Regions from separate parts of the Homo sapiens genome. Here regions 2 and 3 are each linked to region 1. The links come from fine-mapping of genetic effects on gene expression. A gene starts in region 1. Each other region holds a variant in brackets. All regions are shown on one strand. Distances are from middle to middle.

Evidence for each region. PIP is the estimated chance that this variant, and not a neighbour inherited with it, causes the effect.
Region 2: its variant is the best candidate, but not a certain one, in a credible set for the expression of LIPC in whole blood (INTERVAL, PIP 0.81).
Region 3: its variant is the best candidate, but not a certain one, in a credible set for the expression of LIPC in whole blood (INTERVAL, PIP 0.57).

The regions. Positions count from the first base shown.
Region 1 is chr15:58,429,515-58,433,756 of GRCh38, forward strand. It overlaps LIPC (lipase C, hepatic type), which reads left to right and starts at 2,477. Exons shown (of 9, transcript NM_000236.3): 1 at 2,477-2,606. The coding sequence starts at 2,519. RefSeq lists an enhancer at 496-790 and a silencer at 496-790.
Region 2 is chr15:58,365,546-58,369,787 of GRCh38, forward strand. No RefSeq gene overlaps it. Among named protein-coding and RNA genes, the nearest start is that of LIPC, 64 kb to the right of the region's middle. RefSeq lists an enhancer at 3,775-3,954. The variant T/G (reference allele first, on the strand shown) is at 2,281.
Region 3 is chr15:58,403,600-58,407,841 of GRCh38, forward strand. No RefSeq gene overlaps it. Among named protein-coding and RNA genes, the nearest start is that of LIPC, 26 kb to the right of the region's middle. The variant T/C (reference allele first, on the strand shown) is at 2,271.

The DNA of each region.
Region 1 (4,242 bases):
GGAACTTTCAGATTCTGCTTAACTGTGCAGGAGCCAGCCAAGTATCCAAGGCAGAAGTCCTTGCTCAGAAATTGTATATCTGATGGGCACGGTGACTCACGCCTGTAATCCCAGCACTTTGGGAGGCCGAGGTGGGTGGATCACAAGGTCAGGAGTTAGAGACCAGCCTGACCAACATGGTAAAACCCCGTCTCTACTAAAAATACAAAAATTAGCCAGGCATGGTGGTGGGCACCTGTAGTCCCACCTACTCTGAAGGCTGAAGCACTAGAATCGCTTGAACCTGGGAGGTGGAAGTTGCAGTGAACCGAGATCGCGCCACTGCACTCCAGCCTGGGCGACAGAGCAAGATTCCATCTCAAAAAAAAAAAAGAAAAAGAAAAAGAAATTGTATATCTGACGGGATGGTCCGCAAGCTTCGGGGCTTGGGAGGAAGGTACAGTCATAGGACAGAACACAGCTTTAGACTGGGTCAAGATCGTCCAAGTCTGGTGGTGGCTTCAGAAGGCCCTTTGAATGAGGCTCGTCCAGGCAATAATTACCATGTTATCTAATTTTGCCCGCTTAACGTTTCCACTTGGATGTCTAAGAGCCATCTCAAAGCCCCACGTGGCCAAGGCTGAATCTCTAATCTTCCCCCAACAGACCTGCTTCACTCACAGCTTCCCCTTCTCAGCTGACAGCAACCCCATTAATCTGCTTGTTCAAGCCAAAAAACCTGGAAGTCATCCTTAACTCCTCTCTTTCTCCCACATCTCACAACTCAGCAGTCAGAAAATCCTGTGGGCTCTACCTTCAAAATATATCCACCACCCATCCACCACTCCGCAGTTGCCCTTTACCATGCTGGGCCACGCCACCATCACCTCTCACTGGGCCACTGTAATAGCCTTCTAACAGATCTCCCCACTGCACCCTGGCTCACTTGCAAACCAGAGTGATATTTTAAAACTATAATACAAATCATATCACCCTTCTGCTCAGAGTCGCCCCCCATGTGTCAATGCATAAAAGTCAAAGTCCTTACAATGTCTCCCCATTCATTGGCCTCCTTGCTATTCCTGGAGCACACCAGGCATACTCCTACCTCAGGGCCTTTGCACAGACTGCCCGAAGCTCTCCTCCCCAAGACGTCCACAGGGGCAACTCCTTCACTTCCTTCAAACCTTTGCTGAAAGTTTAACTTCCCAATGCAATTCACTCTAACCACTCTGCTTAAAATCCCTACCTTCTCCCCAACCCCCTGCTTTTCTTGTAGTGGTTCCCATTACATTCTACCAGTCTACCTAATTTTTTTTTTTTTTTTTTTGAGACGGAGTCTCTCTGTGTCGCCCAGGCTGGAGTACAATGGCGCGATCTCAGTTCACTGCAACCTCCGCCTCCCAGGTTCAAGCGATTCTCCTGCCTCAGCTTCCTGAGTAGCTGGGATTACAGGCACTCACCTCCACGCCCAGCTAACTTTTGTATTTTTAGTACAGATGGGGTTTCACCATGTTGGTCAGGCTGGTCTCGAACTCCTGACCTCGTGATCCGCCCTCCTCGCCTCCCAAAGTGCTGTGATTACAGGAGTGAGCCACCGCTCCTGGCCAGAAATCTCTTCTTTATTATGTCTACTGTCCGTTATCCAACTCCAGAAGGTAAGAACCTCCACTGATACATAAGGACTTGTATACCCCACGTGCCTGCAACAGTGCTTGGCACCTAGTAGGCATACCAAAATATATAAATGTTGAACAAATGAAGAAAGTTAAAGTAAAACTAGAGGTCCAAAAATATCACAAAAGCCATCTATGGTCGCCTTTTCCCTACCTGATTTTGCTGAGTGGCCTTACTTTTCAGTCCTCTACACAGCTGGAACATTAATGAACACAGAGGGGGAAGAAGTGTGTTTACTCTAGGATCACCTCTCAATGGGTCACTTGGCAAGGGCATCTTTGCTTCTTCGTCAGCTCCTTTTGACACGGGGGTGAAGGGTTTTCTGCACCACACTTTGACCACAAGCATCACCAATTTCACTGAACCCAACAGAAATTTGGACCCTCTGGGGGCTCTCTGCGTGGCAGGGCCCTTTTCTTTTTCTTTGGGCTTAGGCTGCAATTTGAAACACCACTTTCCTGAGCCAGCATCCCCCTTGCAGCGCTGTCACAGGGAGGCTTAGGCAGCCACGTGGAAGCCACCTACCCCGACCTTTGGCAGAATTTCCAAACACAACACAGTAGCTTTAAGTTGATTAATTTGGAACTCTGACCTTGGCCCCAAAAGGTAAGAATACATAACAAGGTATTTTATTCTCAAAATGTGTCAGGATAAGAAGCACTTCTGTAAATCGACCTTTTTAAAATAGATATAATTAGATTTGCAGTTGGGGGCAGTAAAGAAAGGGTCTGAACAGTGGATAACATGTTGAGAGGTTAATTATTAATGGGCAGTCTTCCCTAACAAAGTATCTAATAGGCATTGTGGTCTCTTTGGCTTCAGAAATTACCAAGAAAGCCTGGACCCCGGGTGAAACGGAGAAATGGACACAAGTCCCCTGTGTTTCTCCATTCTGTTGGTTTTATGCATCTTTATCCAATCAAGTGCCCTTGGACAAAGCCTGAAACCAGGTAAGAGCCTGACTTTTCTCCAGAGATGGGCATGAACTTTTCTTTTTAAAACGTGTGTCACAAAGAATCCAGGGGTTTCTGACTGTATGGGACAGAGCTTGCTTCAGAGCGTGCCAGGTGGTTCTATACACGACCTCACAGGTTCACAGGGACACGTAGCCGTTTGTAAACAGAAATGAAATTTTAGAAAATCATCCTCGGATTAAAAGTCTTCTAAGAGTGCCTGCAGCTAGCAGTGAAGTCTCTTGCGTATCTGATATGGAAACAGTCATGCTAAAAGTTATTCAGCGGCAAATGATATGAAAGCGATTCAGATCTTCCTGAGAGTTAATGTGGCATCTAATTTGCAACCGGGGAGCCAGGCTTGCAATGAAATGCTCTGTCGGGTTGGGGTTGTCTAATTGCCTGCCTCTCTCAGAAGAGAGGGGAATTTATGAGAGTTCTATTTCCAGTCAGGTCTAAAGTAGAGATATCATTGCACAATTTCTAGACTTTGTTTTGCTGCCAAAATTTTAGTCTGAGGCTGAAGAATCCAACAGCCGTCCTGCCTGTTTTGTTTGTAAATTCACAAACTAGATTGATGGCGAAAGACAGATCAAATGCCTTATCAGGAAGGTAGTAGAGTGGAGCCCAGCTTCCAGGCTAAGCAGTGGACCAATAAATGACGGATCAGTTAATTGAACAATTTGGCCAGACTAGACAGGTGTTTGGGAATTTGTTTTGGTACTGGTTACTGGTCAGGAGCTAGTAACGCTAAGGTAGAGTCTGAGATTTTTCTTTTCTCTAAGACTAGCCTTGGAGAGAGCTCCGACAACTTTGAGAATTAGAAATTCCCTAACGGGATGTACCTAAAAATTTCAGAAGCTTTTTTCCCCTTTAAGAAAAAGGCTGTTCCTTTGTATTTGACTATTTTACTTCATAGGCCAGTTAATAACTGAGTAGCAGTATTAATTATTGCCATTCACTAAGTATTTTCTGTGCCAAGCACTATACTAATTATTTTTGACACATCATCTCATTTATAAAGCCACATCCAAAAATGACCCTTACATAATAATTTAGAGCCATACAGGTAAAATTGCTGGTAATCTTTATTCCCTTGGTTCATAGTGATTTTGCTAAAGGGCCTTTCCTGCCCTTTGCCCCGGAATGTTGTATTTGTTTGTTTACTTTTTAATGAAGTTTATAACACACTTCTAGAAAAGGGCCTCTATCATAAATCCTCAATGAGTTCTCACAAACTGAACCAGTACCCCAAAGCCTTCCTTGTGTGCCCCTTGAGCCTTAACATATATGATTTTTTCCTTTGGGGAGATTTTTCATTAATAGAAACACATCAGTTGCTCTTTTGCGTCTGGCTTCTTTCGTTCGACATTATGTTTGTGAAAGTCAACCATGCAGTTTCGTGGAGTTGAGGCTCATTCATTCTCACTGCTGTAGCATTCCACTGCGGGACCATGCCACACTTCCTTTATCCATTCTACTGTGGATTGGCCAGGACTGTTTTTGCAATGGAGCCATGGGAATTGGAAGCTGTCAGTGCTGAGATAGAGGTTGAAGGGAGGGATGGCCTCCCCCAGGCTTCTGGGTATTGTCCAGATTTTCCTTGAGCAATCTCATTGTCCTGATCAGCCTG
Region 2 (4,242 bases), 64 kb before region 1:
TACAGACATCTACAGAACTCTCCACCAAAAATTAACAGAATATACATTCTTCTCAGCACCACATCGCACTTTTTCTAAAATTGACCATATAATTGGAAATAAAACACTCCTCAGCAAATGCAAAAGAATGGCTATCATAAGAAACAGTCTCTCAGACCACAGTGCAATCAAATTAGAACTCAGGATTAAGAAACTCACTTAAAACCGTACAACTACATGGAAACTGAACAACCTTCTCCTGAATGACTACCAGGTAAACAACGAAATTAAGGCAGAAGTAAATAAGTTCTTTGAAACCGATGAGAACAAAGGCACAACATACCAGAATCTCTGGGACACAGCTAAAGCAGTGTTTAGAAGGAAATTTATAGCACTAAATGCCCACAGGAGAAAGCAGAAAAGATCTAAAATTGACACCCTAACATCACAATTAAAAGAACTAGAGAAGCAAGAGCAAACAAATTCAAAAGCTAGCAGAAGACAAGAAATAACTAAGATTAGAGCAGAACTGAAGGAGATAGAAATGTGAAAAACCCTTCAAAAAAATCATCGAATCCAGGAGCCAGTTTTTTGAAAAGATAAACAAAATAGAGCACTAGCCAGACTAATGAAGAAAAAAGAGAAGAATCAAATAGACACAATAAAAAATGTTAAAGGGGATATCACCACTGATCCCAAAGAAATACATACTGCCATCAGAGAATACTATAAACACCTTTACGCAAATAAGCTAGAAAATCTAGAAGAAATGGATAAATTCCTGGACACATACACCCTCCCAAGACTCGAGCAGGAAGAAGTCAAATCCCTGAATGGACCAATAACAAATTCTGAAATTGAGGCAGTAATTAATAGCCTTCCAACCAAAAAAAAAAAAAAAAAAAAAAGCCCAGGACCAGATGTGTTCACAGCTGAATTCTATCAGAGGTACAAAGAGGAGCTGGTATCATTCCTTCTGAAACTATTTCAAACAGTAGAAAAAAAGGGACTCCTCGCTAACTCATTTTATAAGGCCAGCCTCATCCTGATACCAAAACCTGGCAGAGACACAACAAAAAAAGAGAATTTCAGGCCCATATCCCTGATGAACATTGAGGTGAAAATCCTCAATAAAATACTGGCAAACCAAATCCAGCAGCACATCAAAAAGCTTATCCACTGATGATTAAGTCGGCTTCATCCCTGGGATGCAAGGCTGGTTCGACATATGCAAATCAAAAAAATGTAATCCAATCACCGTAAACAGAACCAATGACAAAAACCACATGATTATCTCAATAGATGCAGAAAAGGCCTTCAATAAAATTCAACACCCCTTTCTCCCAAAAACTCTCAATTGACTAGGTATTGATGGAACGTATCTCAAAATAATAAGAGCTATTTATGACAAACCCACAGCCAATATCATACTGAATGGGCAAAAGTTGAAAGCATTCCCTTTGAAAACTGGCACAAGATAAGGATGCCCTCTCTCACCACTCCTATCCAACATAGTATTGGAAGTTCTGGCCAGGGCAATCAGGCAAGAGAAAGAAATAAAGGGTATTCAAACAGGAAAAGAGGAAGTAAAATTGTCTCTGTTTGCAGATGACATGATTGTATATTTAGGAAACCCCATTGTCTCAGCCCAAAATCTCCTTAAGCTGATAAGCGACTTCAGCAAAGTCTTGGGATAAAAAATCAATGTCCAAAAATCACAAGCATTCCTATACACCAATAATAGACAAACAGAGAGCCAAATCATGAGTGAACTCCCATTCACAATTGCTTCGAAGAGAATCAAATACCTAGGAATCCAACTTACAAGGGATGTGAAGGGCCTTTTCAAGGAGAACTACAAACCACTGCTCAAGGAAATAAGAGAGGACACAAACAAATTGAAAAACATTCCATGCTCATGGATAGGAAGAATCAATATTGTGAAAATGGCCACACTGCCCAAAGTAATTAATAGATTCAGTGCTTTCCCCATCAAACTACCATATACTTTGTTGCCAGAACTAGAAAAAAAACTACCTTAAAGTTCATATGGAACCAAAAAAGAGCCCATATAGCCAAGACAATCCTTAGCAAAAAGAACAAAGTTGGAGGCACCACGCTACCTGGCTTCAAACTATGCTACAAGCCTACAGTAAACAAAACAGCATGCTGCTGGTACCAAAACAGATATATAGAATAATCAAACAGAACAGAGGCCTCAGAAATAATGCTACACACCTACAACCATCTGATCTTTGACAAACCTGACAAAAACAAGAAATGGGGAAAGGATTCCCTATT[T/G]AATAAGTGGCCTTGGGAAAAATGGCTTCAGAAAACTGAAACTGGACCCATTCCTTACACCTTATACAAAAATTAACTCAAGATGGATTAAAGACTTAAATGTAAGACCTAAAACCATGAAAACCCTGGAAGAAAACCTAGGCAATACCATTCAGGACATAGGCATGGGCAAAGACTTCATGACTAAAACACCAAAAGCAATGGCAACAAAAGCCCAAATTGACAAATGGGATCTAATTAAACTAAAGAGCTTCTGCACAGAAAAAGAAACTATCATTAGAGTGAATAGGCAACCTACAGAATGGGAGAAAGTTTTTGCAATCTATCCATCTGACAGAGGGCTAATATCCATAATCTACACAGAACTCAAACAAATTTACAAGAAAAAGACAAAAACCCCATCAAAAAGTGGGCAAAGGATATGGACAGAAATTCCTCAAAAGAAGACATTTATGTGGCCAAAAAACATACGAAAAAAAGCTCATCATCACTGGTCATTAGAGAAATGCAAATCAAAACCACAATGAGATATCATCTCACACTAGTTAGAATGGCAATCATTAAAAAGTCAGGAAACAACAGATGCTGGAGAGGATGTGGAGAAATAGGAACACTTTTACACTGTTCGTGGCAGTATAAATTAGTTCAACCATTGTGGAAGACAGTGTGGTGATTCCTCAAGGATCTAGAACCAGAAATACCATTCGACCAAGCGATCCCATTACTGGGTATACACCCAAAGGATTATAAATCATTCTACTATAAAGACACATGCACACGTATGTTTACTGTGGCACTATTCACAATAGCAAAGACTTGGAACCAATCCAAATGCCCATCAATGATAGAATGGATAAAGAAAATGTGGCACATATACACCATGGAATACTGTGCAGCCATGAAAAAGGATGAGTTCATGTCCTTTGCAGGGACATTGTTGAAGCCGTAAACCATCATTCTCAGCAAACTAACACAGGAACAGAAAACCAAACACTGCATGTTCTCACTCATAAGTGGGAGTTGAACAATGAGAACACATGGACACAGGGAGAGGGACATCACACACTGGGGCCTGTCAGGGAGTCAGGGGCAAGGGGAGGGATAGCATTAGGACAAATACCTAATGTAGATGACAGGGTGATGGGTGCAACAAACCACCATGGTACGTGTATCTATGTAACAAACCTGCACGTTGTGCACATGTATCCCAGAACTTAAAGTTTAAAAAAAAAAAAAAAGAGAGAGAATGCTAAGGATGCAGTGAAGTACAACAGGTTTGGAAAGACACTGTGAGAGTCTCAAGGCAAATTCTCCCATATCCCACGTGTCTCTGAAGTCCCTGTGTCCCCAGTCCCCATGCCCACTTCTCTCCACGCCTCCTTCCAGCTCACTTGTACCCTCATGGTGCCCCTCCTACAGATCTACCTGCCACCTTACATTATCACTGCACTGCCTCATATATCCTACTAAATCCTCTCTTCCTCCTGGTGCTCAGTTGGGTCCATCACCTTTCTCTGGGGCCCTACAGCACCCCTGGCTTCTACAGTAGCACTTGCTATACTCACTGTAATCCTTGTTGGCGCATATATCTCTCCAGCTAGACCATCAATATCTGCAGGAATGTAGCCTTTTTCCTGTACCCAGCCCAGATTCTGGTTCACCACATCCTTGTTGCCTGAGTAAATAATGAACTGAATCCTCCCAGGCCCATCCAAGCTTCTGTGACCACTCCAGTGAACAAGCTCACTCTCACACGGACTCTCCCCCGTCTCCCCTGCTTGCTTGCTTTCTCTTTCTCTCTCTCTCTCTGTCTCTGTGTGTGTGTGTGTGTGTGTGTGCGTGCATGCGTGTGTGTGTATCTCTGTTAGCACTGGTCTGGAGTTGTTACTAGCAGCTTTCTTATATAGCTGTAAACTGGTATTTTTCTATTTTTCTATTTGTATCTCCTCCCACCCCAAATGT
Region 3 (4,242 bases), 26 kb before region 1:
AGCAAGCCATTTCCTGGTTTATTTGGCACAAGGAAGCCTTTAAAGGGTCCAGGTAAGACTGTCTCCTTTTGCTCCCCAGTGTCTCAAAGGCACCACCTGTCACCTGGCGGATGACTGACTCGGCAGCCTGAGAGTTCACGGGGGGCCAGCCTGCCTTGGACACAGCCCTGTTGAGTGAAGCCAAGGCATCTCACACAAGAGTGATAGGTTAAAGCCAACAGATGTCTTCACACCCTACATCATAGAGAAAGTCGGGCTGAGAGAGGAATAATTGACAGTGTCCCTGATCAAAACAGACATCTTGTCACAGCATATTTAGTGGAAAATACATAGGAAACAAATGCTAAATTCTCCATCCAGGCTGCAGTACCTAATATACCACTGCCAAGAAGAAAGCATTTAATAAAATCCTTTAAGTTTTATCTAGAGTAGATGCAATATGGAGCAATTAGTCAGACAGCAAGCTCATGGTGCAGTGCAAACAAAGCTGGTATAGACAAATAGGCACGGCACAGTAATCCAACAAATATGTAATGAGCACACCTACTATGTGCCAGACACCAAGCTAGGTTCTGACATCACACCAAAGCTGTTCTTTAAAGCTTCCAAAGCAAGTTCACGTACACACTCAAATCTGATTCTCACAAAACCAAGTGACGTAAGGGGTTATTATCCTATCTGCACTCTGCAGATGAGTAAACTGATGCTCACTGGGGTCAGAGGAATGATCCCAGTCATAAGACTAAGGCTTAGTATATCATCAGTCCATGACCATCTGTACTTTTCCGCAATGGGCAAGAATCTCAAAAAATAGAAAACGGAGAGTCAGAGAACATCTTGAGATGGAAGTCTCCCAATGTGTGAATTTCACTAGTTTTTAATAGTTCTAGATGTCACCCAAAGGCGACTTGTCTTCATGCCCCTGAATACCTACGTAATTTTTCTTACTTGTGCCAAAAGCCTGATCCTCAACTCTGTACTCGCTCTACCTCAGATGTCTCTGCATTTTGCCTTCTATACTTTTTGTTGGGAAGGGTAATGTATTAGTAAGGACATGTTCAGTTGCAAGCAAGAGAAAACCCAACTAACAAAGACTTAAGCAATAAAGACATTTAATTATCTTATATAACAAAAGATGTGAATGCAGGCAATTCCAGAGATGGCACCTTAGCTCAAAATTGTCATGAAACAAACAAGACCTTCCTTTCTTTCCACTCTACCATCCTTAGACTTGTTGCCTCGTGGCTATAAAATGGCTGCTACAGCTCTAGTCTAGTGTTCTCAGAGGTCTGTGGCCAAAGGCATATCCCAGTCACATGACCACTCCAGCAGCAAGGGTAGCTAGGAAAGCAAGAATCCAGTATTTGTGACCTTCATAGTGGGTGTGTGGTGCTGTGCATAAGGAAAAAAGTCAAGAGGGTTATTGGATAACTAATCCACCCCTTCTACCATAGGTAACTTTCTGATTCCTGGTCAGGGTCAGAGCTGAAAACGAATTCCTCTTGAACAGAAATATGGATTGGATTTCTTGACACTATATATCTGTTGCTCTACTCGTTTGCTATTGCTGCAAAATAAATAACCACAGACTTAGCAGCTTAAGACAATGCCCACTTAGATTCTCACAGTTCTATATAGGTCAGAAGTCCAGGAAGGCTTGAGTGGGTTCTCTGCTCATGTACTTACAAGGCTAGAATCAAAGTGTTAGCAGGGCTAACCTCTCATCTAGAGACTTGGGAAGAATTCACTTCCACACCCAATCAGGTTGTGAGCAAAATTCAGCTCCTTGCAATTGTAGGACTGAGGTCTCCATGGCCTTGCTGGCTGTCAACCAGGGACTAGTCTCAATGCCAAAGGCCACTCTCAGTCCTGGTACCTGGCACCCTCCATCTTCAAAGTCAGCAATGATGTACTGAATCCTTTTCATACTTTGAATCTCTCTGACTTCCCCACTTCTGCCACTAGCCAAAGAGGGCTCATGTGATTAGATAATAATATAGATAATAAGCCTTTTGCCATACTCATGGATGTGACACCAGAGGGTAAAGATCATAAGACCATCTTAAAATTTTACCTACCACAGTTACCACTAAAAAATATGTAATTAGGACTTATTCCTGGAGTTCAGGATAGGGTCAAGTTTCCCTGAATCATGACAGGGACAGGTGGACTGCCAATCAAAAGTAGGACTCTGCAAGTGAAAAGTTAAAGGAGAGAAGGGCTGTTGGGTGGGCAAAAAAGAGTGTCTGATTTAATTTTTTTCTGTGAAA[T/C]TGAGTTATTAACCTGTCAACATAAATTCACAGAGCTATAATATTGGAGAGGAGAGGTTTGTTTTTTATAAAGGGTTGCAGCCTGCAGGCTGGAAATCCCACAGGCTTGGAAGCACAGCCTCCAGCAGAAACCAAAAGCAGGCACTTTGAGGGAGGAAAGAGTAGAACAGGAATTTGTGATGAACGGGTTAGCTAAGTACACATATTCAACAGGTTATAGGAAGAGCTATGAATATTCCCGAAGGCAGGTACACACATGCCTAGTAAACAAACATGCATGTTACATGCGTCCCATGTTCACTTTGGGGTACAGACTTAACATTTAAATTCCTTGCAATTAGGTCCTATAGGTCAAATGGTGAAGCAGGGGACAGGAAGGCACTCTGTGCAAGCCTCTGTAAACTGGCCAGAACCAGTCTATGGTCAGTGGACTCTTAACCAGGAGAAAGTTACTGAAATCAGTCTCTTATCCAATCAAAGTAGTAGTTATGGCTTGCAGAAAAGGGGTAGGGAGATGGATGAGTTAGTGTCTGGTGGTTGGTGAGCTGCAATTATTTCAATATTGCTTCTCCAGAGGCCAGTGCTTATTTAGCGGCTAGAGAAAAAGAAAAACCTTGCAGCTATTAGAACCTAGTTTATTCTTTAAGTGTTGGGATGTGTGACTTAACCCTACCCTGGCATGGCCTTGGGTCTTGTTTATAATTTAGTATCTTTTTGCCACAAAGAGTCCATTCCGTCATTCTTATGATCTCTATTTTAACACCCCTAATTTAGTTAAACAGTAGAACATCATCTAGCTGGTGAAAATTATTTTTTTATAAGAACATAATGTATAAAAACCACTGATCAGGACAAGGATCCCTGCTTCATTTAACTTTCCCGTCCTCTCCCTCCACCCTCACTATCCCCACCCCATCTCCTCAGCCTGCACCACGCTCCCCCACGGACTATGAAGAATGCAGACTCACAGGGAGTTTCATAGTGTTTTCTTGCAAAAGTACTGAGTATAGCCAGATTTCTCATGTGGATTTTTCACTGGTTTGTTTCTGTTAGGCAAAACGGAAGGACAAGGGTTGATGGAGAAGGGAGGCACATCTCATACAGCTTCCTCACAGCAGGTCCTAACACTGTCCATTGTGTTTAGAATGAGCCTTTATGTGGCTTTCCATGGGTTTCTGGTGAAAAATCACAACCCTCTCTGAGACGGAGATGCCCCATCACCTGTTCTTTCACTGCATTATTTTCTGTTTCACTGCCTCAAACCAGACTCAGACCTCCAGTGCTCTTTATTTCAATTACTTTTACCTGTTTTATGACATCTATTTGGGTTTAACTTTTGGTTCCTCCACCAAAAAGTCTGAAATTCCAGGTCAGAGTTCTCCAAGGAGCTTATATGTGTTTGCACAAACATGTGGAAATCCTTAGGAACTACCAATTATCAACCACTCAGAACTCAGTGCCTTGGTATTTTTTGCTGTTGTGGAGGCTTGTGTTTACCTTTTATTTTAAGCACTTTCCAGCCCATCCTCTTGAAGCACCTGGCCTTACCAGGGGCCTTGCTCATTTGTTCTTGCTGCCTCCTCCATTCAGAAGACCCATCAATCAGTGTCTGAAACAAGGACCTTCTGTGTAGAATCAAAAGCCACCACATCACAGCTGAAGGCAACAGAATGCAGTGGGCATTGTTGTTTGTACACAGGCCTTCGTCTCTTTCAGAAGTGTCTCTGTTTGAAATGAATGAGGCAGACAAGAGTGTGGCTTCAAAAGCAACTCTCCCCCTCTGGGCTTTGCTTATTGAAAGTCCTGTGAGCACTGTTACTAGAAAGTAAAGAGAATAAAAGGCAAACCTGAGGCAGGCTACAGGTTCCCAGGCAAGGCAGTCACATCCAGCCTCAGCCAGGCAGTACCGCCAGTCATTGGCCTTCACTTTGTCTATTTGAGTTTGCAAGGTTAACATGAAAGAGGCTGTTTA